4 linked regions of the Homo sapiens genome follow. The protein of the gene in region 4 interacts with the protein of the main gene of each other region in a pairwise test. Each region holds a gene or a part of one and is shown on either strand. Other genes may lie near its edges.

What was found.
Region 1: the proteins of CYTH4 (region 4) and INAVA interact in a two-hybrid assay, tested with the Homo sapiens proteins (one study listed by IntAct).
Region 2: the proteins of CYTH4 (region 4) and CCDC6 interact in binary tests that used the Homo sapiens proteins (3 or more experiments, as listed by UniProt).
Region 3: the proteins of CYTH4 (region 4) and CCDC40 interact in binary tests that used the Homo sapiens proteins (3 or more experiments, as listed by UniProt).

The regions. Positions count from the first base shown.
Region 1 is NC_000001.11:200,897,886-200,904,918, reverse strand, and holds part of INAVA (innate immunity activator protein), read right to left. Parts: intron 6,613-7,033; coding exon of another isoform or gene 6,519-6,612; coding exon 6,464-6,518; intron 5,447-6,463; coding exon 5,322-5,446; intron 4,816-5,321; coding exon 4,699-4,815; intron 3,983-4,698; coding exon 3,760-3,982; intron 1-3,759. UniProt on the Homo sapiens protein: Expressed in peripheral macrophages and intestinal myeloid-derived cells, is required for optimal PRR (pattern recognition receptor)-induced signaling, cytokine secretion, and bacterial clearance.
Region 2 is NC_000010.11:59,788,214-59,791,556, forward strand, and holds the end of CCDC6 (coiled-coil domain-containing protein 6), read right to left. Parts: 3' UTR 534-3,343; downstream 1-533.
Region 3 is NC_000017.11:80,031,774-80,039,664, forward strand, and holds the start of CCDC40 (coiled-coil domain-containing protein 40), read left to right. Parts: upstream 1-4,868; 5' UTR 4,869-4,889; coding exon 4,890-4,918; intron 4,919-6,349; coding exon 6,350-6,413; intron 6,414-7,891. UniProt on the Homo sapiens protein: Required for assembly of dynein regulatory complex (DRC) and inner dynein arm (IDA) complexes, which are responsible for ciliary beat regulation, thereby playing a central role in motility in cilia and flagella.
Region 4 is NC_000022.11:37,292,477-37,299,509, forward strand, and holds part of CYTH4 (cytohesin-4), read left to right. Parts: intron 1-125; exon of another isoform or gene 126-144; coding exon 145-227; intron 228-2,183; coding exon 2,184-2,248; intron 2,249-3,522; coding exon 3,523-3,589; intron 3,590-5,087; coding exon 5,088-5,206; intron 5,207-6,749; coding exon 6,750-6,830; intron 6,831-7,033. UniProt on the Homo sapiens protein: Promotes guanine-nucleotide exchange on ARF1 and ARF5. Promotes the activation of ARF factors through replacement of GDP with GTP.

The sequences.
Region 1 (7,033 bases), on a different chromosome or scaffold from region 4:
TTTTGTTTTGTTTTGTTTTAATTTGCTGGGTGTGGTGGCACATGACTGTAGTCCCAGCTACTAGAGGCTGAGGAAGGAAGATCACTTGAGCCCAGGAGTTCAAGGCTGCAGTGAGGTATGATCACACTACTGCACTCCAGCCTGAGCAACAGAACAAGACCCTGTCTCTAAAAAGATTGGAAAAAAAAAAAAAAAGATTCAGGTTTCTGAGAGCTGCTCACTATCTCAGCAACTGTCCCAACCCTGCCCTAGCTCAGCGTTCCCCTGCCCCGCAGCAGCATCGCAGGACACCCCAGACAGAGGGGTAACGGTGGAGATTTTACTCACAAATGCTGAGCTTCCCCCAAGGCTATGCTGTCCAACACAGTTGCCACTAGCCGCATGTGGCTATTTTCATTAAAACTAAATAAAGTCAGTTCCTCAGTCACACTAGGCACAGTTCAAATGCTCCATAGCCACATGCAGCGAGTGGCTACTGTATTGGACAGCACAGATACAGAACACTTCCACCATCTCAGAAATGCTATGAGCGGCCAGGCGCAGTGGCTCACGCCTGTAATCCCACCACTTGGGAGGCCAAGGCGGGAGGATCCCTTGAGGTCAGGAGTTCGAGACTAGCTTGGACAATTTGGTGAAACCCCATCTCTACTAAAAATACAAAAATTAGCTGGGCGTGGCAGCACGCATCTGCAGTCCCAGCTACTCAGGAGGCTGAGGCAGGAGAATCGCTTAAACCCGGTAGGTGGAGGTTGCAGTGAGCTGAGATGGCTCCACTGCACTCCAGCCTGGATGAGAGAGCAAGACTCCGTCTCAAAAAAAAAAAAAAAATGTTATGAGGATGTGGCTAATGGCTGGTGTTGTTGATCAACAGATGCATCCAGAGTGCCTATTACATTGCACAGGTGGGTGCTGGGTGGCCCTCATGCGGTTCACTCTAGTAAATGAGCTCAACACCTGACTGCTCCCTGCCACTGCAAAGTATGGCTGATGACTCTCACCTAGCAGTTACTTTCCCAAACTAAATTACCCTTGTATGGAGCCCAAGGGGGCAGGGTGGTTTTTTATTTCGGTTTTTGGGTTGTTTGCTTTTTTCCCTTTTTTTTTTTTTTTTTTTTGAGACAGAGTTTCGCTCTTGTCACCAGGCTGGAGTGCAATGGTGCAATCTCGGCTCACCGCAACCTCCGCCTCCTGGGTTCAAGTGATTATCCTGCCTTAGCCTCCCGAGTAGCTGGGATTACAGGCATGCGCCACCATGCCTGGCTAATTTTGTATTTTTAGTAGAGATGGGGTTTCTCCATGTTGGTCAGACTGGTCTTGAACTCCCGACCTCAAGTGATCCACCCGCCTCGGCCTCCCAAAGTGCTGGGATTACAGGTGTGAGCCACTGCACCTGGCCTCCTGTTTTTTTGTTTTGTTTTGTTTTTTGTTTTTGAGACAAAGTCTCACTCTGTTGCCAGGCTGGAGTGCAGTGGCACGATCTCGGCTCCCTTGATCCTGGGCTCCACCTCCCAGGTTCAAGGGATTCTCCTGGCTCAGCCTCCCGAGTAGCTGGGACTACAGACATGCACCACCATGTCTGGCTAATTTTTGTATTTTTAGTAGAGATGGGGTTTCACTATGTTGGCCAGGCTGGTCTTGAACTCCTAACCTCATGATCCGCCCACCTTGGCTTCCAAAAGTATTGGGATTACAGGCATGAGCCACAGTGTCCGGCCTTCCCTTTTTAATTCAAAACACCTCAGCTACTAATAATTCTGCTTTACTTCCTCCTTTCTAGGAGGGCTCGGCTGGGCAGAGGAGCCACAAAACAGAAATTACTTGTCTAGAACTGATCCCTTCTGTGCTCTCACAACAGGACTTTAGATCCCAGGGCCTGAAGTTGGCCAGTGGGATCTTGATTCCTGATGTGGGAAAGTCAGCAACTACACCAGTTGTCTCCTCTCCACAGCTCTGTCTTCACCTGTACTGAGGGCTCCAAGGTTTCAGAACCTCATCCTCCTGCCTTCCACAGAGCCCCAGGCCAGTCCTGGCCTGCTCCCGACTCCCAACAAGAAGCATTATGGGTCACAATGGCAGCATCAGGGTGACACTCCCCTGCCACCCATCATGGGCAGAAGCTCCCAGCAATGGCAGCCCCGGTGGGCAGGGGAGGCTGCTGAGCAGTGTGAGGCTGGACCGGGGAGCAGGAGGCGCTGCAACCAACGGGCATATCTCACCACCCTGACCTCTCCCTGCAGGCACAGAGCAAGTTGGCCCTTAGGGGCTTCCATGTCCAATTCAGCAGCTACCTTTCAAGGTTGCTGTCAAGTCCTGGGATCCCTGTTGAGAGTGGAGTAAGGTTGTAGAACTTGTCTTCCATTAGAGCCTCAGAGACTGGGAGTGTTGTTCTGCGGCCAAGCCAGAACCACTGGAACCGGACAGAGGTCTGGCCATTTTCCCTGGGTCAGCCCCACTGTCTTCTGAGTTTACTGGGTTAACTGTCACATGGAGGCACCTCCTCCTTTATCACCTACTCTTGGCTGCGGGAGGTGACCTGGGTGGTGTCTGGTCATGCACTTTCTACCCTAAATTAAAAGCCATGGATAGGAGCAGGGACTTCTGAGACCTGTGCTGAGATAACTCCCTGCCTGAGGCATAGGCTGCAGGGCACAGGGACTAGCAAGGGCTTTCCAGCTTCCCCATGACTGCTCCCAGGCTGAGGAGTAGTCTTGGCAAAAAGCCAACACGATATGCAGGGATGGGAGCCTGAGAATGTGAATGAAGGCCGAGACCTCTGAATCCAATTCTGGATTTTTTTTTGCAGGGCCACGGCCTCATTCCCTCCCGGTTCCCTCTGAGGCAGCCAGGGAGGTCTGGGTCCCATGTGAGAGACGGGGGGCAGAGCTGAGTCATGGGCCTGCTGCGGTGGGGTTTGGAATGGAGAGATGCAAGTCCTGACCTGACAGGCTGGCCTTGGGTCAGGACAAAGGAAAACAGTCACACCTAAGGGCTCAGAACCACCTGTTGGAAGCTAACCTGTGGTGGACACACTGATGTGATGTGGCAGCACCTGGGCATCAACAACTCACTAGGTGCCCCCACGGCCACTAGTCTCTGGGCCAAGGAGCTCAGGGATTGAACTACAGACACAAGGAGGGCAGAGAACAGACATGGAAGGATCCCACCCTTGACCAGGGTGGTTGTAGATACTTAAGGGGCTGTGGGGTGTGGCACCAGTCCTGCTGGATTTCAACCTGAACATCTCCTAAGTAGCTGTGGGCCCCTGAAACAATTCAGTGATCAGTAACACATAGCAATCGTCAAACCCTTTGCTGCCTAACTCAGGCCAGGGGACTACACATCAACTCAGAGCCTTGGGCTCACGGGAGCCTCACACTACCCTGACCCAGAGATGCCATCACCCTGTGGGCCTGGAGGGCAGCGGGGCCAGCCTGGGCTACCCAGTTGAATACACCTTGGATTCAGCTCAGGGTCAGCTGAGAAATATCTCTGTGTAGGAAGTCTCTTGAAGGTAGTGTATTTTGAGGAGGATACGGAAGGAGAGAGTAGGGTGTTTTCTAAGGAGACGGAGAAGAAGACCTCACAGGATGGGGAAGCCTTGCTGGAGTTGGAGAGAATCAGGATGGGGTGGAGCTGAACCCAAGAATCAGCTTTACCCAGCTGGAGCCAAATGCAAAGGCAGTGGCACGGGGCTGTGCGCCCACCATCCCTCAAAAGCTCATTTAAGGAGCATGGCCCCCCTCAGGGCAGCCGGCTCACCTCGGCCCAGGGGGAGAGCAGCAGCCGGAGGTGGCTCGCTATTGCGCCGCCGCTCGACCAGGCAGCGCTGGAGCTCCTGCAGCTTCTTCTCCTCCTGCAGCATGGAGTGCTTCCGCTGCCGCCGAGCCTGCCTGCTGAGGTTCTCCTCCAGGCACAGCCGACGGGCTGCCTCTGTGATCTGCAGCTGCAGGGCCAGCTGGCGCTCCAGGCTGCTTAGGGGGTCCTGAGAGAGGGGGCAGGAGTGAGGCTAGAGAGAGGCAGGGAGATTGGGGGCCCAGAGGGTGGACAGCAGCCCTGACACAGTGCTCTAGGTCCCAGTCCTAAGCCCTGAGGACAGAAGAGAGGCAGACAGCAGCACCAATGGACGGACGTGGAGCAGAGGGTGAAGGAGTGGGAGGAGCCGAAAAGCAAACTTGTCAGCCTGAAAAGCTGGCATGGGCACCCACCCACCAGCCCACCTGCTGAACCGGGCAGGGTGGGAACCCAAGTGGGACACTTTCCCTCCTGACCCCAAAGGGTGGGGCAGGCTGGCCCATGGGAAACTGCTGCCATTGACGCCACAGGGGAAGGGCACCCAGGGCCTGACTGCCCCCACCTCCTCCTGAGAAAGGAGGACAGCCCTAGGGGCCAGAGTAACCTGTCTGAGCAGGCTATTGCCCGCTGGGTTGGTGGCTGGTGCTCTTAACTGATCTTCTGCCCAATGGGGTCAAACCCAGTGTCCTCCCTTGAGCTCCCAGCTCTCGGTTCCTTAGTGGCGCCCCTTCTCCACAGCCATTTGGGCTACATATTCATGGTGTCTCTCACCAACAGGCAGCCAAGCACCCTCACTGGGTGTGAAAGGGTGGAAGGGAACCTGCCAGGGTACTGAGCTGAGGTGTGGCGTCTCAGTGATCAGCTTTGGGGATCGAGGGGTACTGGCAGCTTCCTGAGGTTCCTCACCTCTCTGTGCAAGGCCCAGTCATCCAGTTTGTAAGCCGCTCCGATCCTGCGGCGAACCTTGGGGGCCTTTTCCCCTGGTTTGAGGGGATACTCCGCTGGCAAGGTGCCCGTCAGCTCCTGGGGAGGAAGCAGAGACCAGCCAGGTCCTCTCCACCTGCCCAGACTTGGCTCACTGGCCCCTGCACTGCATGTGCCTGCCTTCCATAGAAGCCCTGGTGGGACCACCCTCCACCCCACCTCATCCCATCCTCCACACTGTCTCTCCTGTCTTCAGACCCACTCTGCACTCCTCCCCTTTCCCTTCAGACCTCTTTCTGATCACTTCCTCCAGAGCTACACCGACCCGGGTTACAGCACTCATATGCACTTATGTCTGTGCAGTCCCTCTGCAGCCCCTGATGAACTTTGTTCTCTGTGCCTGGGCCCCTGCCTGGGTCTGACTCTTCTCCATCCAGCACAAGGTCAAACACTGCATCATGGGGACTCTGGGCCCCAGCCCCCAGCCTGATGTCCAGAATTCCCTCAAGAATGGGGCTCCCTCTCCCCAGCTCCCGCATCCCCACACGTGGCTCCACAGCTCCTGAGATGAACCCGATGCTTGTGTGTGCTGGCTGGGGCCTCACCGCTTCCCGAAGGCAGAGTCTCCTCAGCTCCTCCAGGCAGGCCTCCAGCCTCGCTTCCAGGGCCCTCTGCTGCTTGTGCACTGCATGGGTCAGCTCCTTCATTGGGGAGACCGGGCTGTCGGGGCCTGCAAGGGTTGGGGGGCACATGCTCAGGGAGGCTGAAGATGGAAGCCTCCTCCGTTACTTATTGACCACCCCTAGGGGAATGCACATGCACACACATGCACACACACACACACATCTCATGCCTGCCCACAAATTGCAGGCTGGCTGCTGTGGCCTGTGTCACAGCCACAAAACACCACGTCTCTTGGCTGCACAAATGTTACAACTCAGAAGGGAGGGTCGTCCCACCAGGTGACCTATGGTGGGGGAGTGCAGGGGAGGGAGTTCTGCCGGTGCAGTCCTCCCCCCACTCCTCCTCCCTTCTTCTTCCTCTTTTCCTTCTCCTTCTTCTTCCTGTCTCTCTCTCTCCCTCTCCCCACTACCCCTCTCTCTTGCACACACACATAAGCCTCTTCTTTCTTGTCCTCTGTCAAGACTAGGCCAGACTAGGCCCACAGGTCTGGCCAAACAGAGAGGCAAGACCTTCACATTGGCCAGATGATATATTTTTTTTGAGACGGAGTCTTGCCCTGTCGCCCAGGCTGGAGTGCAATGCCGCGATCTCGGCTCACTGCAACCTCCGCCTCCCAGGTTCAAACGATTCTTCTGCCTCAGCCTCCCACATAGCTGGGACTATGTGGTAGCCAGGATGGTCTCGATCTCCTGACCTTGTGATCCGCCCACCTTGGCCTCCCAAAGTGCTGGGATTACAGGCATGAGCCACTGTGCCTGCCTGAGATTTTTCAACTTCTCAGCTGGGGCTAAAGTTGAACATTGCAGATCCCTCTTCCAGATAGAACCAAAACTCCAAGCCAGTTTTCTCCAGGGAGGAAAACTCCACATGTCCCTGAGGCTCCAGCCCTTCCAGAACCTCCCCCTCCTCCCAGCAGAGGCCTCTCCCTCCCCTTCCTCTCAGCCCTTGGGAGTCTCAGCCCAGCCAGCCCTAGTGCCTGAGGGCTCAGGACTCAGGAGTCAGGGCCAGGGACCAGGGACCAGGGACTAGGGACTAGGGCAGGGGGATTTCCCTGAACACTCACCAGACTGCAGGATGATGCCACTGTCGGTGTCGCTGACCTCATCCTTACTCTCCATGGTGGATTTCTGGAAGGAGAGGGCACAGAGCAGGGAGGGGGGACACCGTGACCAGCCTGGGCCAGGTTGTGTAGGTAGCCTGGAGCTTCCCCAGCTTTAAAGAGAAAAGAGAACAATAACAAAAAAGCTAGATATGAACCATCTTGGTTACAAAAAGCTGAATAGATGCTTGAGAGCAGGGGAGTGGAAGGGAGGACTGTGCTTCAGGAACCATCTGGGGCAGGAGATTCTGGCACTGGGGGTGCTGACCTAGAGAAGGGGCTGTGGGCCTCACCAGCAAACCCTGTTCTCAGTGGGCTCTCAGGGGCCCAGCCTAACTCCCCTCTGGGCCAAAGTCCTCTAGGCCTAAGGGGGTCGACAGCTGTGGTAGCCACAAGAACCGCTCGACTGGGGAGAAGGGCAAGAAGGAAAAGAGCAGAGACAGGATAAAAAGGAAGGGGACAAAAAATGGGATGGGATAACAAAGAAAGGAGGAAGGAAGCCCAGCATGGTGGCTCACGCCTGTAATCCCAGCA
Region 2 (3,343 bases), on a different chromosome or scaffold from region 4:
TTTGAGACCGGCCTGGTCAATGTGGCAAAACCCCGTCTCTACTAAAAATACAAAAATTAACTTGTATTGGCGTGTTGGCACATACCTGTAGTCCCAGCTACTTGGGAGGCTGAAGCAGGATAATTGCTTGAACCCAGGAGGTGGAGGTTGCAGTGAGCCAAGATTGCACCACTGCACTCCAGCCTGGGTGGCAGAGTGAGACTCCGTCAAAAACAAATAAGCAAAACTATACCAGCCCTTTTCGTGCCATCATTCCTTATTTTTTTTTGGAGATGGGATCTTCCTTTGACACCCAGGCTGGAGTGCAATGGCGCAATCCTAGCTCACTACAGCCTCGAACTCTCAAGGCTCAAGTGATCCTCCCACCCCAGACTCCTGAGTAGCTGGGACTACAGGCTTGTGTCACTGCACCCAGTTGTTTAAATTTACTTTCTAAGGCAGCCTTTAGAGTTTACAATTTAAGTTAGATGTCTGTCAGAAGCAACAGAGAAACAATGTTTTATTCCCAAAAACCGAAATGAAAAAAGATAGGGTTTAAGGCTCAAGAGGTACATTTTAAAAAATTATCTTTATTTAGGTTTCTGATTCAGCACATGTATCAAAGACTAATCAACATAAAGGAGTAAATAAGACATTAATTGAAAGTCTTACATCTCTCTAAACTCTGACCAAGAATGTCAAGATTGCCACTATTACCAGAACTCCAACCTAGTCAAGTTGTAGACAAGCTATCATGAACAACATACAGTGTGCACAGATATGCAGAGGCAAAAGGCATGCTAGCGCTTGGCTCTCCTCTTTTCCTTGTTGACATCTTTCTGTTGGACAGTCCACTTTCGCTTTCCAGGCTAAGTTCCAAATCAAGTCCAAAGAAGGCTCAGGGGTCAACCTGACCAGATACTCTTCTGGAGGAATGCATTCTTAAACTGTTGTGCCTGCAACTTTGTTTTTGCCAGGATGAAGTTCAGACCGAGATGTACAATACAATCTAGATGACGGTGCAGACTAAGTCAAGAACTAAAGTTGTGCAGTAACCCGAGTTAAGGCATGAATGCAGACACACACATGCACACACACAGCACCCATGCTATCAAGACACAGGATTTTTTCAGTTGCCTCATGAGAGGCAACCTGGGCTTGGCAGTTAATCAGAACTGCTGAGCATTCCAGAAAATGCCCCCCACGACTTTATGCTAACAGCTGTGTGTATGTTTTAATCAAAAAATTAAAGAAGAAAAAAAAACCCTAAAAAACAAAGAAAAAAACAAACAAAAAATCACCAAAAACCTAGAAACCCCTTAATCTCTTACAATGGCTCTTGAGCATGGAACTCATGTAGCAGCATCAATGGCTGGCTCTTTAACAATTTGGAAATAAAAGGTTGTTTTACTATGTATTTCTTTGGTAGTCATCACTACAAAGTTTTCAGTGTTGGTTACCTATAAGACAAGTACTAGACAGAAGATCAAGTTACACAGAAATATTTCTTCTGTACTGATAAGATACAAATATTGAGCTCTCAAAGCACAAGTTACTATGCTTTTTCTTGCCTTATTGGGCATTCTCTAAAAGCAAGGCTTTGTGCAGGAAAAGTTCATGTCTACCTAACAAAGGGTGATACATGTTCTATTTTCCTACAAGTGAACAATTAACAAAAATTCACATTATCAATTATTTCTGGTTGAATTCTGTTAGAAGCCAATTACAAAGGGACAGTAGCACTTGGTGTCAAAGCCACTTTCTGGTCACACATTCATTCCATGGTTGCTAGTCAGTATCTCAGGAGCTCAGAATTTAAAACTCCTTTCAGTCAACGAAGGAGTAAGTTCAATTAAAGGCTTCCACTATCTGCCAAATTTCTAGAATTCTGTCTAGAGTGCTAGCATGCTTGATGAGAGAAAGCAGTTCAGAGCCCAAAGAGGTGTCAGGTATTAGGTAAGTTAATTTGGTTTTGTATAAAAGGCATGGTAATCTGGCAACAGAGTACTTATCCTATTAGCAGCACAGTGGTAGCCAAGGGTCTCTGTCTGCAAGACAGGAAAATGAAGCTACTGAAGCCCCTGTTGCTCCCACCTGCCTGCAGGACGGCTACTGATTTTACAAAGGCCTTCTGGGAGCCAATCCAGGGCTCACCTGGGAGAGTGGGTAACAGAATGGCAGGAACCATGTTCAGCCCCCATGAGAAGTGCCCGACTGAGGGAAGTCAGCTTCCCATAGGTGAGGGGGCTGTTGCCATTATGGGCTCAGAATCTAAATCTTACTGATCCCTAGTAGTAAGACAATTGCCAAGAAATTGTCCTAGCAGGTACTACCCAAGTGTTACAGGCTCTGCATAGGTCCTCAAACACTTTAAAGGACACGAACCATCAAATTCAAAAGAGTAGTGTTTGTTCTATCAGTTCTGAATGTCCACAGGGAGAGGCAACTAGATTTATGTGGAAAAAGTGCTGTTTGAAGGAGCTGTGTTTTATTTCGAAGTGAAATGACTTTGGGAACCAGAACATTTCTGCAGATGTCTGAATATCAAGAACCTATCTCTAAAAGGCATTTATCAGGAAATGTTCGCTCACTCCAAGTGCTTTTTAAAAATTCAACATATGGCAATGTTTTAATTTTTGTGCTTTCAAGAGGTAACTAAATCGATAGGAAGCTGAGGGAAGATCATTCCATTATGGACTTTCTTGTTTGGGTGCAAGACACTATCCACAGCATTGAAATCTATAATCTCATAAAAGATTCTTATAAACATATACCATATTTCTCCTATAAGAAAAACTGAGAACTGTACCATGAAGGCAAAATTTGTTTGCCTACTCTCAGAATTCCTTGGAATGGCAATGTACCAGGAGGGTGAGTGAACTGTTGGTGAAAATTCCGGGTTTGACATGGCCCAGTCTGATCACATCAAAAACCTAAAGCCTCAATGATTAAATGCCAAACTTCTTCCCTGCATCTGAGAACTGTATTATGATTATGTATATTACACATACATTATAAATAAAATTTATATAGACCTACAGTTTCTTCCAAACAATTGAGTGATGTTCTCAGTTTGGGGGTGGAAGCAGGAAGAGGTGAAAAAATCTTATTGTTGCTTTTACTCTCAAGTTCTTAAAACGCTAGTCAAACACTATTATCCAACAAGACTTTTTTTTTTCATTCTGTTAACTCTTAAATATGCATTCGAAGGCAAAAATGGAGGTTTCTATACTGTACAATATTAAATATCTACAATGTCATGGTTCCTTATTTTTAGGAGTGTGTTTAATAAAGAGTTGGCTATTAGAGATGGTTGTCACAAAACATGGACTCTTAAAAATTACTGATAAATTACTTTTCAGTT
Region 3 (7,891 bases), on a different chromosome or scaffold from region 4:
GGGTAAGGGAAGATGCAGACCCAGCCAGGAAATCAAAAACTGCCCTGAGTCTGGCTCAGGTACCTCCTACTTCTATGCTGTGCCTGTAAACATGGAGGCCTAAAGCTTCTCAGCATCTGTCAGTGAAGGAGCAGTGAATGCACCGCAAAACAAAACTGAAACTGGGGGGACATATTAACAACACCCAAAAGCAACACAACTGATCTTGCTTTGGAAAGCATTTTAGTTACAGAAAAGGCAAAAGGCTGTCAAATGACATCTGTAAAGTTCACCCTTTCCCCCACTTCCAGAAGGCTAGAGTAATGATGAACTATATTGGAGCATTGAATTCAGGCTCACTCAACATGCAAAAAGCAGTACACGACTGAAGTGTGCAAGCCAGCATGGATGCGGGCTTGGCACCCGCAGTACGTTGGCTTCATAGTGACCAATCCAGAAAGACCACGGAGAAAATACTGCCACATCTCAGCGTCTGCAGCCCATACAGGCAAGCAGACACATGTATCACCTTCCAACGCCTGCACAGACTCACCGCCCAAGGCTCAGCAACAGAAGGGCAGGCCATTCCGACTGGACAGTGGATTTGGATTATTTCTCTTTTCTTTCTGTTATTCATGTGTCAGAAGCCACCACGGGCAGAAATCGAACTTAGTCTTACAGTGGCCCGATTTCTCTCATCCTTTGAGGATGGTTATGTAAGTTCCGAAGACAGAGTAAAGAACGTATTTCAAATCAGATGCCACCAGACAGCTCATAAAAGCAGATTTATTAGAGATGCAACATCAGGTGCTCAAAGGACAGATAGGATAAAAACACCAACAAAGCCAACAGGATAAAAAACACTGCCGCTGAGGTGAACGGAAAAAGGCCTCCAACATCATTGCCCCATATTTTTGGGAAGGGTGCAAATGTGTGCTCTCTCCTGTGCACTGGCCTCATTAACAGCAATATAATGCAAATGCAATACAAATGGTGTACAATTCGATCATAAAATCATCCTCTGCGCTGTCACCTTCACATCCCAGAGCCACCCGCCCCCGGTGCTTAATGCTGGATGAAACAAAGTAGCTAATCTTACAAGAGAATTTAGGCCTGTGACAAAAATCAGGGTCCCTCAGCCAGGGAAGAAGGGGAGCTAAAATTTTCACAGGAGGTGGTGTTGCCAGGCAACCTGATCAGCTCTGCTCCCCATAGCATCCTGCAGGGACCCAGCCCCCGGTCAAGTTGTAAAGATAAGGGTACACATACGCACAAATAGTAAATCCTACATCTGCCTGGAATCACTTTCCACCTCATGGACCACACAAAGGGGAGTGAGGAGTCAAAGCACAAAAACAAAATGTTTTGTGTCAATCTAGTTAAATGTGGAAAATCCAAATAACGGTCATTAATAACAGTGTTAAAATGTTACCATTTGACATTACTTACCACATCCTAAATGGTAACTCAGGATGTGTCAGGAATTCAATGCTTTTCATAATCCTTGCACAAAGTCTCTGAAGTAGGTAGTATAGATGGGGAAATTAAGGCACTGGAGAATTAACTAAGTGCCAGAGGAGTTGGGGTTTTTGTTGTTGTTTTGTTGTTGTTGTTGTTTGGGTTTTTTAGGTTTTTTTTTTAAGCAGAGTCTCACTCTGTCACCCAGGCTAGAATGCAGAGGCTGGTCATGGCTCACTGCAGCCCTGACCTCCCGGGCTCAAGCTATCCTCCCACCTCAGCCACCCAAATAGCTGGGACCATAGGTGCCCACCAGCATGTCCAGCTAATTTGTTCATTTTTTGTAGCGATAGGGTCTCTCTAGGTTGCCTAAGGTGGTCTTGAACTTCTGGGCTCAAGTGATTCTCCCAAAATACAGGATTATAGGTGTGAGCTACTATGCCCAGTCCAGGATTTGTATTTGAAGCCAGCAGTCCATCTTTCTACGCCATGTTCTTAACCACTGCACCTTATTACCCAAAACTGTGGACAGAGACCAGTGCAATTGTAGGTAGGTTCTGCAAACTCAATGGCTTTATCCTGAAGCCTGGGGGATGCTTTCCATACTGAAGTGAACTGAGATTAGCAGCTAGTGGTGACATGGGATTAGTCCCACCTCCTTGCACTGTTATGAACCACTTGGAAGAATGTTTGTATATGAATGGTGGGCACCCTCTGTAAGACAGAGGGCAAAGTTGTACAACGGTTTTCTGGAGCTGGGACGTCCTGGGCCTAAGGCCTAATTCTGTCACTCCTAACTGCATGAGCTTGGGAAGTTACTTCTCTAAGCGTCAGTGTTCCCATCTGTAAATGGGCATAACTGCAGTCCTGACTTCATGAGCTTGTTTTGTGGGTTAAGTGAATTCATGCATGATAATTAGGAACTACTAACGCAATCACCAAAATTGCTAGAGGATTAAATAATTCCACAGATAAAAACTTTTTTTTTCCTTTTTTTTTTTTTTTTTGAGACATAGAATGTTGCTCTATCACCCGGGCTGGGGTGCAGTTGCACATCTTGGCTCACTGCAACCTTCGCCTCCCGAGCTCAAGCGATTCCCCTGTCTCAGCCTCCTGAGTACTGGGATTACAGGCTCACGCCACCACACCGGGCTAATTTTTGTATTTTTAGTAGATATGGGGGGTTTCACCATATTGGCCAGGCTGGTCTCGAACTCCTGACCTCAGGTGATCCGCTCGCCTCGTCCTCCCAAAGTGCTGGGATTACAGCCGTGAGCCACGGCGCCCAGCCATAAAAACTTTCGCCATAAAAACTTTCGTTAGCCATAGTCTCACCATAAACATGCCACTTACAAAAAAATATGCGCACAATAACCACGCTCAGGATGCAAACAACATCCATTAATGAACTTTGTAGTTAATACCAAAAGTTACTCCTCACTTTATTCTTTATTTACAAAAGCTTTCATGGTTCTTAAAAGTGTTTAGTATTCACCAATTTTACTGTTAGCGTTTCTAATGAGGATTTTCTAAAACTGAGGCATGGATTTGAAAAAGTGTTCTGATCAATCAGTAACAGATTTGGAATGGAATCTCCAGCCCCCAGTCTTTGCGCCCACCCTCTGGCAATATGCCGCCTCACGTGAGCATCTTTAAGACGGAGTTCCCTTTTTATTCCAGATAAAAGAATTAGGAGCCTTCTGGTAGAAAAGAAAGCAGATCTTCAGGATCAAGTCGCAGAGGCTGGCCAATCAGCCCAGCTTCTCATTTGAACTTGACCCAGACAGTAAAACAAACTTTACCATAAGGCGAGACTAACTTTTGTTATGTCTTTTCTATTCATTTCCTATTTCTGAATCAAATCTGAACTACTTTGTGGCCAATATACGACACCAGCTTCCGAGTGTGGGAATCACAGGATTTCAGGATTCAGCGGCTTCCGGCAGGATCCCCTAGGTTATGTTTAGCAATCTTCAGTTGCCTTTCCTTTTTTTCTTTCCTTCCTTTCGTTCTTTCTTTCTTTTTCTTTTTTTTTTTTTCCCAAAGGAAAGAACAAGGGAGCCCAGGCGGAACGGAAGTGAGTATCCCGACACGCGGATCTTAAACAGCCCAGACCACCAAGCCCGACAGGCCGGGAAAGCTGAGCGCGCGCTGCTGGGGGGACGCACACTTTGGAGGCTGTGTGGGCGCGCGCCGGCACCCCACAAGTTCTCATCCGTCTGCTCCGCCGATTCAGCCAGACAAAGACCGCAAGTTCCCCGGTCCACCGCTCCAGACAGGCGGGGACCAGTCTCCCCGAATTAGGCCCATTCCGGGCCCGGGCGCCCTCACTCGCCGCGGGGAAAAGTCCCCAGGTGCCCCTCCGTGATCCAGGTCCTCCCACAACGCTCCCGCTCCTGCTGGCGCCCCGCACCCCGAGGACGGCGGCCGGACCCCGGCCCCTCCCCGGTCCCGCGGCTGCAGGCCCACGCGCCCCACGCGCCCCGCGCGCCCCCGCCCCAGCTCCGCCGAGGGGGCGCTGCTCGCTGCGCGGTGGACCCCTCGGACCCCGCCCCCGCGGCCCCGTCCGGGCCCCGATACCCACCCGGGTCCCGCTGCGGGGGCCGGATTCGCGCCGGCTCCGAGAGCCGCCACCGTCGCCTCCGCCGCTGCCGCCGCCAGTGAGGCGCGGCGGGGCGGGGACGCGCGGGGAGGCCCGGCCCCCGGCCCGCCCCCGGGCCCGCCCCCGGCCCGGCCCCTGCCTGCCCCCGCCGGTCTCCCCGCCCACCTTCTGGCCCAGCCCTGGGCCCAAGCCTCTAGTTCCCTGCTGGCCCTCCCTCAGGCCTCGCCGCGTCCCGGCCTCGGGGACTGTGCCCCGTCCCGAGCCTGGCGTCCCCAAAGGAAAGGCAGGGCTCCTCGGACGCTCCGCGTGCGCGCTGGCCCTCCGCTGCCGCCCTCTGCAGGGAGATTTCTCCTATTTCGGACTAGGAAGGGAAGATACGCTCCGGAAGACCCCCCGGGCGTCCATGCAAGGAGTCTCCGTAGGACCCCTGGAGAAGGGCACCGGAGCCCCCTAGGGCAGGAGATGGAAAAGCGCTCGCCATGCGCGGGGTCCCCGGCCCCCGGTGCCCCCAGCCCGCCTGCCATTCCCGGGCGCTTAGCAGTCCGGGGTCCCCAGGTGCCCGGCAGGTCCCTTCGGGACCTCGAGCCGCCCGCTGGGCACACGCTGACGCCGCTGTCGCTTTACAGAAATTGAGCGCAGCCGAGGCGGGACCCGGGCGCAGAGAGCGATAAAGGAAAAGCATGGTCGTGCTCTAATCATTACAGTCTAAGGGACGACACGTCGAGACGGCGCGCGCCTCTGCGTGCGTGGAGATGGCACAAAGGCCGCGCCGCCCCCGGCGGCCCCCGCCCTCGCAGCGCGCGTGGTCCCGGCCCGGCCGGATGTTGACAGCGTCGCCTAGCAACGGGAAATGGCGGAACCGGGCGGCGCGGCGGGCCGGTAAGCCGGGCCGAGGGGCAGCGGGTCTTGGAGTCGCCAGGCCGCGCTCTCCGTTCACCGCTCCAGGTGGCCCCCGCGTCGGCTCCTGCCTCGCCCCTTCGCCTCCACTCCCCCTTCCTCTCGCCTGTGTCCCTTCTCTCGCCATTTTGCTGGCCTTTCCCGTCCACTGCGTTCAGCCCCTCACCCCCCCGCCAACCCTTCTCACTTCTCCCCTCCTGTCCCTTTGTCCTCTCTCGGCCTCCCTCTTTCCCCTACTCCAAGCGCGCGACTCCCTCTAAAACCCGGGACCGCTCACTCTGCAGTCACCATGGCAACCACTCTGCGTGGCGGTCCCTGCGCGCAGTCCTCCTAAGAGTAGAGGGCTCTGCAGGGCGCGGGGCTGTTGGATACCGCCCCTGACCTTGCTCCGGGGCCACTCGCTGTGGCCGGAGACCAGCCCGGCCCCGCGCCTCCCTCCTGCAAGGACAGATCCCCTCTCGCAGGCTTGGGGGTGACCCGCGATGGGAGGGGTCCCTGCGGTTAGGCGGCCCGCGATAGTCCGCGGTCACCGTCCTGGGGCCTGGGTGGAAGCACTGAGCGCGCACAGGGAGGGCGGCTGAGTGAAGATCCCTGCCACCGGGCCTCTGCTCGCTTAGGCTCTGTTTAAAAGGATAGAAACGATTGGAAAGAGTTTGGCCTTTTTACCTTAGACACATCGGTATTGTTTCATTTTTTTAAAGGTGGGTCTGTATGTATTGACATGGAAAGACTAAAGGTATTATTAATAAAACGATAGGCATAAATGTAAAAGGGTAGGTATACTATGATCTCTAATTCAGGGTGTGTGTGTGTGTTTAAAACATAGAAAAATGTTGAAAGAATGTGGTCCTAAATGTTATCAATGATTATCTTGGGAAGGAAAGGGAAGATCACAGGGAACTGTCACTGTCTGTCTCTTTGAACATATCTATATTCCTTTGACAGATAAAAATAGCTTGAATCTTTAATTTTTTAAAAAAGATATACATATATATATATATATATATATATTCCTGTGCTACGTAAATCGTGGAGAAACTCAGAGTCCCCAGAACACTTACTCTGATCGCGCTACTTTCTCTACGTTGTATTTCTTTTCCCCAGTTTTGTCCCAGACACAAGTTATATTTGAGGTGACTTTTCTGGGGTGATCTAATCCTGCTGTTCCTTCGATGTTTTAATAATTATATTTTTCATTCATTCATGGAGCTTTGCTTTTGTGGCATCTCCGCCACCTGACAGGCATGATATAGTGCTATGGTTCCTGACAAACAGGACAAAGACGTGACAACAGCCTGGGGGTGGCAGAGAAGTAACAAGTAAATAAACAGATGTGCAGAATTCAGGAGGGGATAAGGACCAAGAAAAAGAAAGCTGTTGCTTGAAACTGTTCAATTGTTTCTCTAAAACCAGGTCCCATCCGGAAGATGGATCGGCTTCTGAGGGAGAGAAGGAAGGGAATAATGAAAGCCACATGGTAAAATTCCCTATGGGCAGTTATTCCGGGCTTATATTTACTAGGAATTAAAGAGAATCAGAGTACGGGCACTGTGGCTCACGCCTGTAATCCCAACACTTTGGGAGGCCAAGGCAGGTGGATCACATGAGGTTAGGAGTTTGAGACAAGCCTGGCCAACATGGTAAAACCCCATCTCTACTAAAAATATAAAAATTAGCCGGGCGTGGTGGTGCGCACATGTAGTCCCAGCTACTCGGGAGGCTGAGGCAGGACAGTGGCTTGAACTCGGGAGACAGAGGTTGCAGTGAGCCAAGATCACACCATTGCACTCCAGCCTGGGTGACCAGTGAAACTCTATCTCAAAAATAAATAAATAGGCCGGGCACGGTGACTCACGCCTGTAATTCCAGCACTTTGGGAGGCCGAGGCAGGCAGATCACGAGGTCAAAAGATCGAGACTATCCTGGCCAACATGGTGAAACCCTGTCTCTACTAAAAATACAAAAATTTGCCAGGCATGGTGGTTCACGCCTGTAGTCCCAGCTACTCGGGAGGCTGAGGCAGGAGAATGGCTTGAACCTGGGAGATGGAGGTTGCAGTGAGCCGAGATTGTGCCACTGCACTCAGCCTGGCGACAGAGCGAGACTCCATCTCAAAAAATAGATAAATAAAATTAAATTAAAAATAAATAAATAAAGAGAATTAGGACTTGGTCAAGTATATTGTATGATGACATTATCTTGCACCAGAACAAACTCAATTCAGTTGAAGAGAGACTCATTTTCTTCCTACCCCATTCTACAGTGTCAGTGATTAGTCAGGGATGCAAAGGATGTCCAACTTTGGGTTGCCCTGAGTTTTTCGGAACTCATTTCCTGTAACAAAGGATGCAAAAATGATTATGAAAAGCAGAGAGGGCCAGGCATGGTGGCTCACGCCTGTGGTCCCGGCACTTTGGGAGGCTGAGGCGGATGGATCTCTTGAGGCCAGGAATTCAAGACCAGCCTGGCCAACATGGTGAAACCCCATCCCTACTAAAAATGGAAAAATTAACTGGGCATGGTGGTACACACCTGTAGTCCCAGCTACTTGGGAGGCTGAAGCAGGAGAATCGCTTGAACCCAGGAGGTGGAAGTTGCAGTGAGCCGAGATCACGCCACCGCACTCCAGCCTGGGCAGCAGAGTGAGCCCCTGTCACAAAAAAAAATAAAAAAAGAAAGAACAGATAAACTGAAGCATGAAACATGATTTTTTTTTTTTTTGAGACAGAGTCTCACTCTGTCTCCAGGCTGAAGTTCAGTGGCACGATCTCAGCTCACTGCAACCTCTGCCTTCCGAGTTTAAGCAATTCTCCTGCCCCAGCCTTCTAAGTAGCTGGGATTACAGGTGTGCACCACCATACCCAGCTAATTTTTGTATTTTTAGTAGAGACGGGGTTTCACCATGTTGGTCAGGATGGTCTCAATCTCCTGACCTCGTGATCTGCCTGCCTCAGC
Region 4 (7,033 bases):
GTCAGGGGAGGCTTCCTGGAGGAGGTGGGCCTCTGTGAATAGGGCAAGTCCTGGGTTTCCGGAGGGAAGGGGGCCCTGCAGAAGTGAGGGCAAGTGGGTGTGGCTGGAGCCAAGTGATGGGGAAGGCCGGTTGTCTCTCTGTAGAGCCCGCGGAGCTGAGCAGCGGGGAGACGGAAGAGTTACAGAGGATCAAGTGGCACCGAAAGCAGCTCCTGGAGGACATCCAGGTGAGTGCACACTCGTGTCCACACACGTGTCCATGCCCACACTCCTGCACGCTTGTACGCACCCCACCAGCTCCTGACCCAGCCTGGTCAACAGACAGTGTGGCCAACTCTGGCTCATATCAGCCTCGGCCCCAGCCCCAGGAGCAGGGAGAACAACAAGACTGCAGACACCCCGAGACCCAGGGAGAACTGGGAGAGCCGGGGAGGGAGGCAGCGATCCAATTAGGCGCCCACCGTGTGCCGATCCTCATCCTGGCCTTTACTTGCTTTGTCACAGGGCAGGCTCTGACCCCTGTGGTGAAGCTTCAGCCAGGTCTCACCCCTGCAGAGTGTAGACCACCTGGTCAAGATAACTCCCAGTATGTGCCCTGCACTTACCACTTCACCAATCAGACTCAGACGTCAGCTCATCTGGGTCAGCAGCTTCTGAGACAGGCTGGGTTCTGTTCCTGGAACGTGCCTTGCTCAGCACTGCCCCTGGGCCTTTGCACTCGCAGTCCCCTCTGCCTGGGCTGCAGTGGCTGTGCCCACCCCCACTCCCATGCACATAAACTTAGGATTTCAGTGAGGAAATGAAGGCACAAAATTATTCACTCAGCTGCTGTTTCATTGAGCACCTACTATATGCCAGGATTTCTCTACCTTGCTCTGATGGTGTTCTGCATAGTCATTCCAATTACCCTATGACCACCCATGATCCCAGCCCCACCAGACTGTGCCCTCCATGAACACAGAGCCGAGGTCTGTCTTGCCCACCACTGCATCCCCAGCCCGCTGGGTGCAGCATTAATAGGTGCTCAGTTAATACTTGCAAATGAATCCCCATTGTATTTGTGGGGCAACCACTCAGTGGCTCTGCCAAGATGGCATGAACAGGAGCTGACACGGCTCAGACACAGGCTCCCAAGTCCCATGCTGGCCCTGAGTCTCAGGACAAGTCCCTGGAACCAGCCCCTCACCAGCACCCTGCAGATCCTGGGGAGAAAGGGGCTGGGTGCCTAATGGGGGTGCCGGCCAGAGGCTCATGCTGGTGTCCTTCAGGGGGTGCTGGTGGTTGGCAGGGGGAGGTGTTAGGGGGTCCCCTCTGCCACTGGGTGCCTCCTGCAGGGTCAAGATGAAATGGGCTTGGGGTCGAGTTGGGGGAAGCACAGGTTTGGAGTCAGACTGCGGGCGTGTCGTGTCATCTCTCTACGCCTCAGTGTCCTCTTCTGTAAAGTCCAGGGGAATTGCAAAGTCCCTGGAAAGAGGGCCTAGGCTGCCTGTGCGTGGTGTCCCCGTAGTACCTGGCAGGCACATAGCGGGCACTTAGTCAAGGGTGAGCAACATAGTAAATGGAGGAAAGCCAGAGAGAAGCTGAGGAAGCAGTAGGGAGCCATGGGAGGGGTTTGAGCAGGGGAAGGGCAGGCTCCATGCAGTGCTCCAGAAAGACACCAGCCGGGAGAGGCAGGCAGGGTGGAGGCGGGCAGGGTGGAGGTGGGCTGGGGGAGGTGGGCAGGGTGGAGGCGGGCGGGGGGTGCAGGCAGGGTGGAGGTGGGCAGGGTGGAGGCGGGCAGGGTGGAGGTGGGCTGGGGGAGGTGGGCAGTGGGGAGGCCGGCTTGTCGGGTAGGCTCGGCTAGAGTGCAGGAGACTTCATGGCTGCAGAGAGGAGAGATGGGAAGGTTGGAAAAAGGATGGGCAAGGGATGGGGGCTTGGGGAATCCCACTCCCCAAGACAAGTGGAGGCATGGGTGCAGACAGAGGTGATAGTTTAGCATGCGACTTAGAAATTATGAGACATCCAGGGAGGGGACCTGTCCATGGAGGGTCCCTCAGACTGGGGACTCAGGACAGAGGTCAGGGAGAGGGGCCAGGTTTGAGAGTCGTGCCCAGGGGTAGGAGTGGTCCTTGTGGTCTCAAACCCCCGGGGTTCTGGCCTCCACCCCTGACTCTCCCTGTCCTGCCCCTGCCACCCCACAGAAGCTGAAGGATGAGATTGCAGATGTGTTTGCCCAAATCGACTGCTTCGAGAGTGCGGAGGAGAGGTGAGGGGCTTGGGTGGGGACCCCCAGAAACTGCCATGGTTGCTTCCCAAGGATGTCATACACCTTGAATGAGCAGGGGCCACTCCCAGCCCCCTGGACCTGGTGAAATCAGGGATTGGCCAGGGAGAAGGAGGCAGCAACGAGACCGGAACAGGGTGGCCCCGGCCCCATCCCGGGTCTGGTCCCTGCTCCCAGGCTGACCCTCTCTTGAGAGACACTGCGTCCTCCCCTCCCCCAACCCAAAGTCTCTCCTGACCCACTGTGGTCCAGCCCTGACCGATCACTGGCCACATCCACCCTGGGATGGGCGGGGAGAAGGGAAGCTCAGCCCCAAGGGCAAGGACAAGGAAGCCCAGGGCCCCAGGAGGACAGGAGCCTGGCCCTACCCCACCCCACTCACCACTAACCCCGGGCCAGCCACGCCCACCGCCTCTGTGGAAAACTCCCACTATTTTGTGATCTGGGACAGATCCTGTCCCTCTCTGGGTCTCAGTTTCCCCATCTGTGCAACAAGAAGGTTGGTTGCTACACAGTCTCCTAAGGCCCCAGTGCACTGACTCTGACACACGATGTCCTGGCAATTTCCCATCCTGCGCCCGCCACTCCTTAGGTCTCCACCTGTCCAGCCTCCTCCCCTCCCCCACCACACACATGCACACACACACACGCATGCACACACACACAAGCATGCACACACACACAAGCATGCACACACACACAAGCATGCACACACACGAGTGGCCGTTTCTCCAGCTCCCCTGTTCCAGCCACAACAATGACAACATAACACACCTACGCCTCACTGTTTTAGGTGCTTTAACCTCTCAACAATGCTGGGAGGCAGGTGGTGGTATCACCTCCATTTTATAGATGAGGAACCTGAGGCCCAGAGAGAGGAAGTGACTCGCCCAAAGCAGCCCGGCTCAGATTCGCATCCAGGAGCCTGGCTCCAGCACCTGCGTGCTCAGCCCTCGCCCCCTCCCCCGGTTTCTTGCACAGGGCCCCTCCACCTTCTCCCACACGGCAGCTCCGGGTTCCTGCAAGCTGCTAAATGCCCGTGCTGGGCCCATCAGAGAAGTCAGCTGCAGAGCTCTGGGAGGAGCCAGGCCTTGCACTGCTCTCTCCCGCCCAGGTGGTTCCCATGCAGGACCCGGAGGCCACACTTGGAGGGCCCTAGAGGGGTATGGGCTCCTGCTGAGGCAAGGGTCCTTGGGGAGTGGAGAGGGTAATTCAGGGTCCTGGGGCAGCCCAAGCTGACGTCCTCATGTCCACAGCCGGATGGCCCAGAAGGAGAAGGAGCTGTGTATTGGGCGCAAGAAGTTCAACATGGACCCCGCCAAGGTAGGTGGCTGTGGAGGGCCCGGGCCACAGGGTGTGGGGGCTGCATGGGAGCACCTGCCTGGTGTCCTCTCGCTCCCCTCGGCTGACACGACCCCTTTCCAGAGGAGGAAGCTGTGCCCAGCAGAGCTGAGCATCTTGTCCAGTGCCCCATGGCCAGCTGTGGCTGGGCGCCCTGTCTACTCCCAGGCATACACGCCTTGGGGCAGGAGGAGCCAGGAGCATGGAGGAGGCCACGGTGTCCATGCACTTGGCCTAGTCCCTTCCCCACTCTGGGCCTCCATTTCCTTCTCCATGAATGTGGCTTGGGACAGTGGAGCTCTTGGATCTGGGGCTTAGGCTCCAGAAGCATCTTCCAGCCCTGGGCTCAGGGAGGGCCAGTCCTGCGGTCCCACCACCCACCCCTCTGCTAGTAGGAGCAGCAGCTCAGGGCTGGGTTACCTCGATCCCCCACACCACTCCCAAGCCCCTGGCCTCACCCCACCAGGTGGCAGCTGGGCTTCCATCCTGAAAGGACGGAGACAGAAGGAAACCGCAGGCAGACACACCGAGGTGGGGTCAGGTGGCCAGCAGAGAGCACCAAGCTGGGGTCCCTGGAAATTTACCGCTCTGGCTTAGAAGGCTCCCTGTCCCCATCACAGGCCCAAAGTGTTATAACCATTCACCTCTCATGGCTACAGACCCTTGGACTCCTGCTCCTACCCACAGAGACCCCCGCAGGCTCACACTCTCACCCCACCCAGCACCCAGGGGTGTCCTCTGCATCCTCTGCCTGTCACTGGGCCCTCATGGCCTGTGCCCAACTTCCAGCAGTGGAACACAGAGGAATCTTCACGGAGAGCCAGAGACCAACCCCTCCAACTCCTAAAACTAGGATGACAAACTCTGAGTGCCTTGGTGGTGAGGAGAGGTGCTTGTGATATTGTCAAATCCGAAAAACAGATTTAAATGTGACAGGCATGGTCTGAGCCCATTTTCACATAGAAAGGGAAGGAAGGTCACCACGATGGAAGCTGTCTGCCTCCGAGCGGTAGGGCCCGGGCAATTTCCTCCCCTTTGGATTGAGCTGGTTTTTCTAACTTTTATACAATAGACATAGATTACTTGTGTGAAAGAATGAAACGCTATTTTTAAATAATATGAGTTTTAGGGGAACAAAAGAAATGGCTGAATCATTGAATCTCAGAATCACAAATTCCTAGAGTCACTGAAGCATATAATCAAAGAATGTCAGACTGAGGGGGACCCTGGGGAGTACCTGGCATGAACCTGGTTCATGGCAGGAAAGCTGACTTTCTTTGCATGCCTCCAGTGATGGGGAACTCATCACCTCCCAAAGGCAGCTCCTATGAAAGAGGGGTCAAAACTTCCCAGAACAGACTGTGCCAACACCAGAATGCCAGGCTCCAGGATTCTGGCCATGGAAGCTCCTTCCTCCCTTCCCCCTCCCAGGCCTGCTTCCATGCAGCAGCTGCTCACGGCTTCTGTGTACCCCCTCCAGGGTATCCAGTATTTCATTGAGCACAAGCTGCTGACCCCTGACGTCCAGGACATTGCACGGTTCCTGTATAAAGGCGAGGGCCTCAACAAGACAGCCATTGGTACCTACCTGGGGGAGAGGTAAGAACGAGTGGAGCCTTAGCGAGGCAGGAAATGAAGGTGTGCAGGTGTGTACAGGTGTGTGGATGTGCAGGTGAGAGGATGAATTATGTTAGCAAAGTCATCACTCCTAGTGCTTGAGGGGCTCACGGATCATCCCCTCCAGATTCTGAGTCAAAGCCTGACTGCCTTCATTCATTTAGTCATTTATTCAACAAATAAATGTTGCTCAGGGTCTACTGTGTTCCAGGCACCATCCTAAGCCCTGGGTGTACACCAGTGAATAAGACAGACAAAACTCTTGTCCTCAGGAAGTCCATGCTAGTGGGAGAGACAGGTCTCAATAGTTGTAAAATATGTTAGAGAATGATAAGCTCTGTGGAATACAAATCGAGCAGGGAAGGGAAGTCAGAAATGCTGGGGACCGGCCAGGCTCGGGGCTCATGCCTGTAATCCCAGCACTTTGGGAGGCCGAGGCAGGCAGATCGCGAGGTCAGGAGTTCCAGATCAGCCTAGCCAACGTGGTGAAACCCCGTCTCTACTAAAAATACAAAAATTAGCCGGATGTGGTGGCAGGTGCCTGTAGTCCCAGTTACTCAGGAGGCTGAAGCAGGGGAATCGCTTGAGCCTGGGAGTCGGAGGTTGTAGTGAGCCAAGATCACGCCATTGCACTCCAGCCTGGGCAACAGATTGAGAACGAGACTCCGTCTCAAAAAAAAAAAGAAAAGAAAAGAAAACAAAGAAAGAAAGACATGCTGGGGACCATAGGTTGGGGGCTGTGATTTAGAATAGCGTGGACAGGAAGGGTCTCATGGAGAAGGTGACATTTGACCAAAACGTAAAAGAGGTGAGGGCATGAGCAGTACAGACATCTGGGGGAGGAGCGGTCCAGGAGTAGCAAGTAAAAAGGCCCTGGGGTCAGAAACAGGCTCAAGAATCTAGACTGGACGGGAGGAGAGAGGAAGGATATTGTGGGCGAGGAGGTGGGGATCTGTGGGAGCGCTCTGGGCAAAGGACTGGTCTGAGGGGTGGGCGAGTGGATAGGGGTGAAGCTGGACCAGAGAGTCAACAGCCCTCTCCCCAGCTCCCAAGGACACCCCTCCCTCCCGCGGTGAGCAGGGGATGCAGACGGTGAGAAGGGCACCTTCCTGCTTCAGGAGCTGGGGAGAGGGAGGAGATGGGGGAGGTCAGCTTCTCTCCCTTGTACAGATGAGGAAGCTGGGGCTGGGAAGGTCAAGTGGCTTCCGCGAGGTCACCAGGTGGGAAGTTACAGGAAATGAGGAAGGCCTGGACTGAGGGCAAGGCCGCTCCAAAGCCAGGGCTCCCCTCCCAGGCCAGACCAGCGCTGGTGAGCCGTGAAGGTGTGTGTTCCTGCATGGGAGGACAAGGGTGTGCCCTCAGGGTGTGATATGGGTGGGACAGATGTGAACACACCAGATGGCAGCTGGACCCCAGAAGGACAGATGTCTCTGTCCTCTCCCTCCCCCACCTCAACCCCCTCCAGGAGGTGGGTGCCAGCAAGTATCCAAGTGTGTCCCACCCTCCCTTCCGCCTCCTCCCCCAGGGATCCCATCAACCTGCAGGTCCTCCAGGCCTTCGTGGACTGCCACGAGTTCGCCAACCTCAACCTCGTCCAGGCCCTCAGGTGAGTAGTCCTGGGGCAGGGTCCCGGCCCTCAAGGGTGGCACAGCCCCAGTGGCTGGGGGTGTCGCGATCCACATAGCTGACAGCACAAACAAAGGGTTGGGAGCAAAGAAGAGGAGGCAAGGAACAAGAATGACTTCATGATAGTACTGCCTCACAGAGCTGAGCTGGACCGCCTGGGAAAGGGCCTAGTTCCTTGCAAAT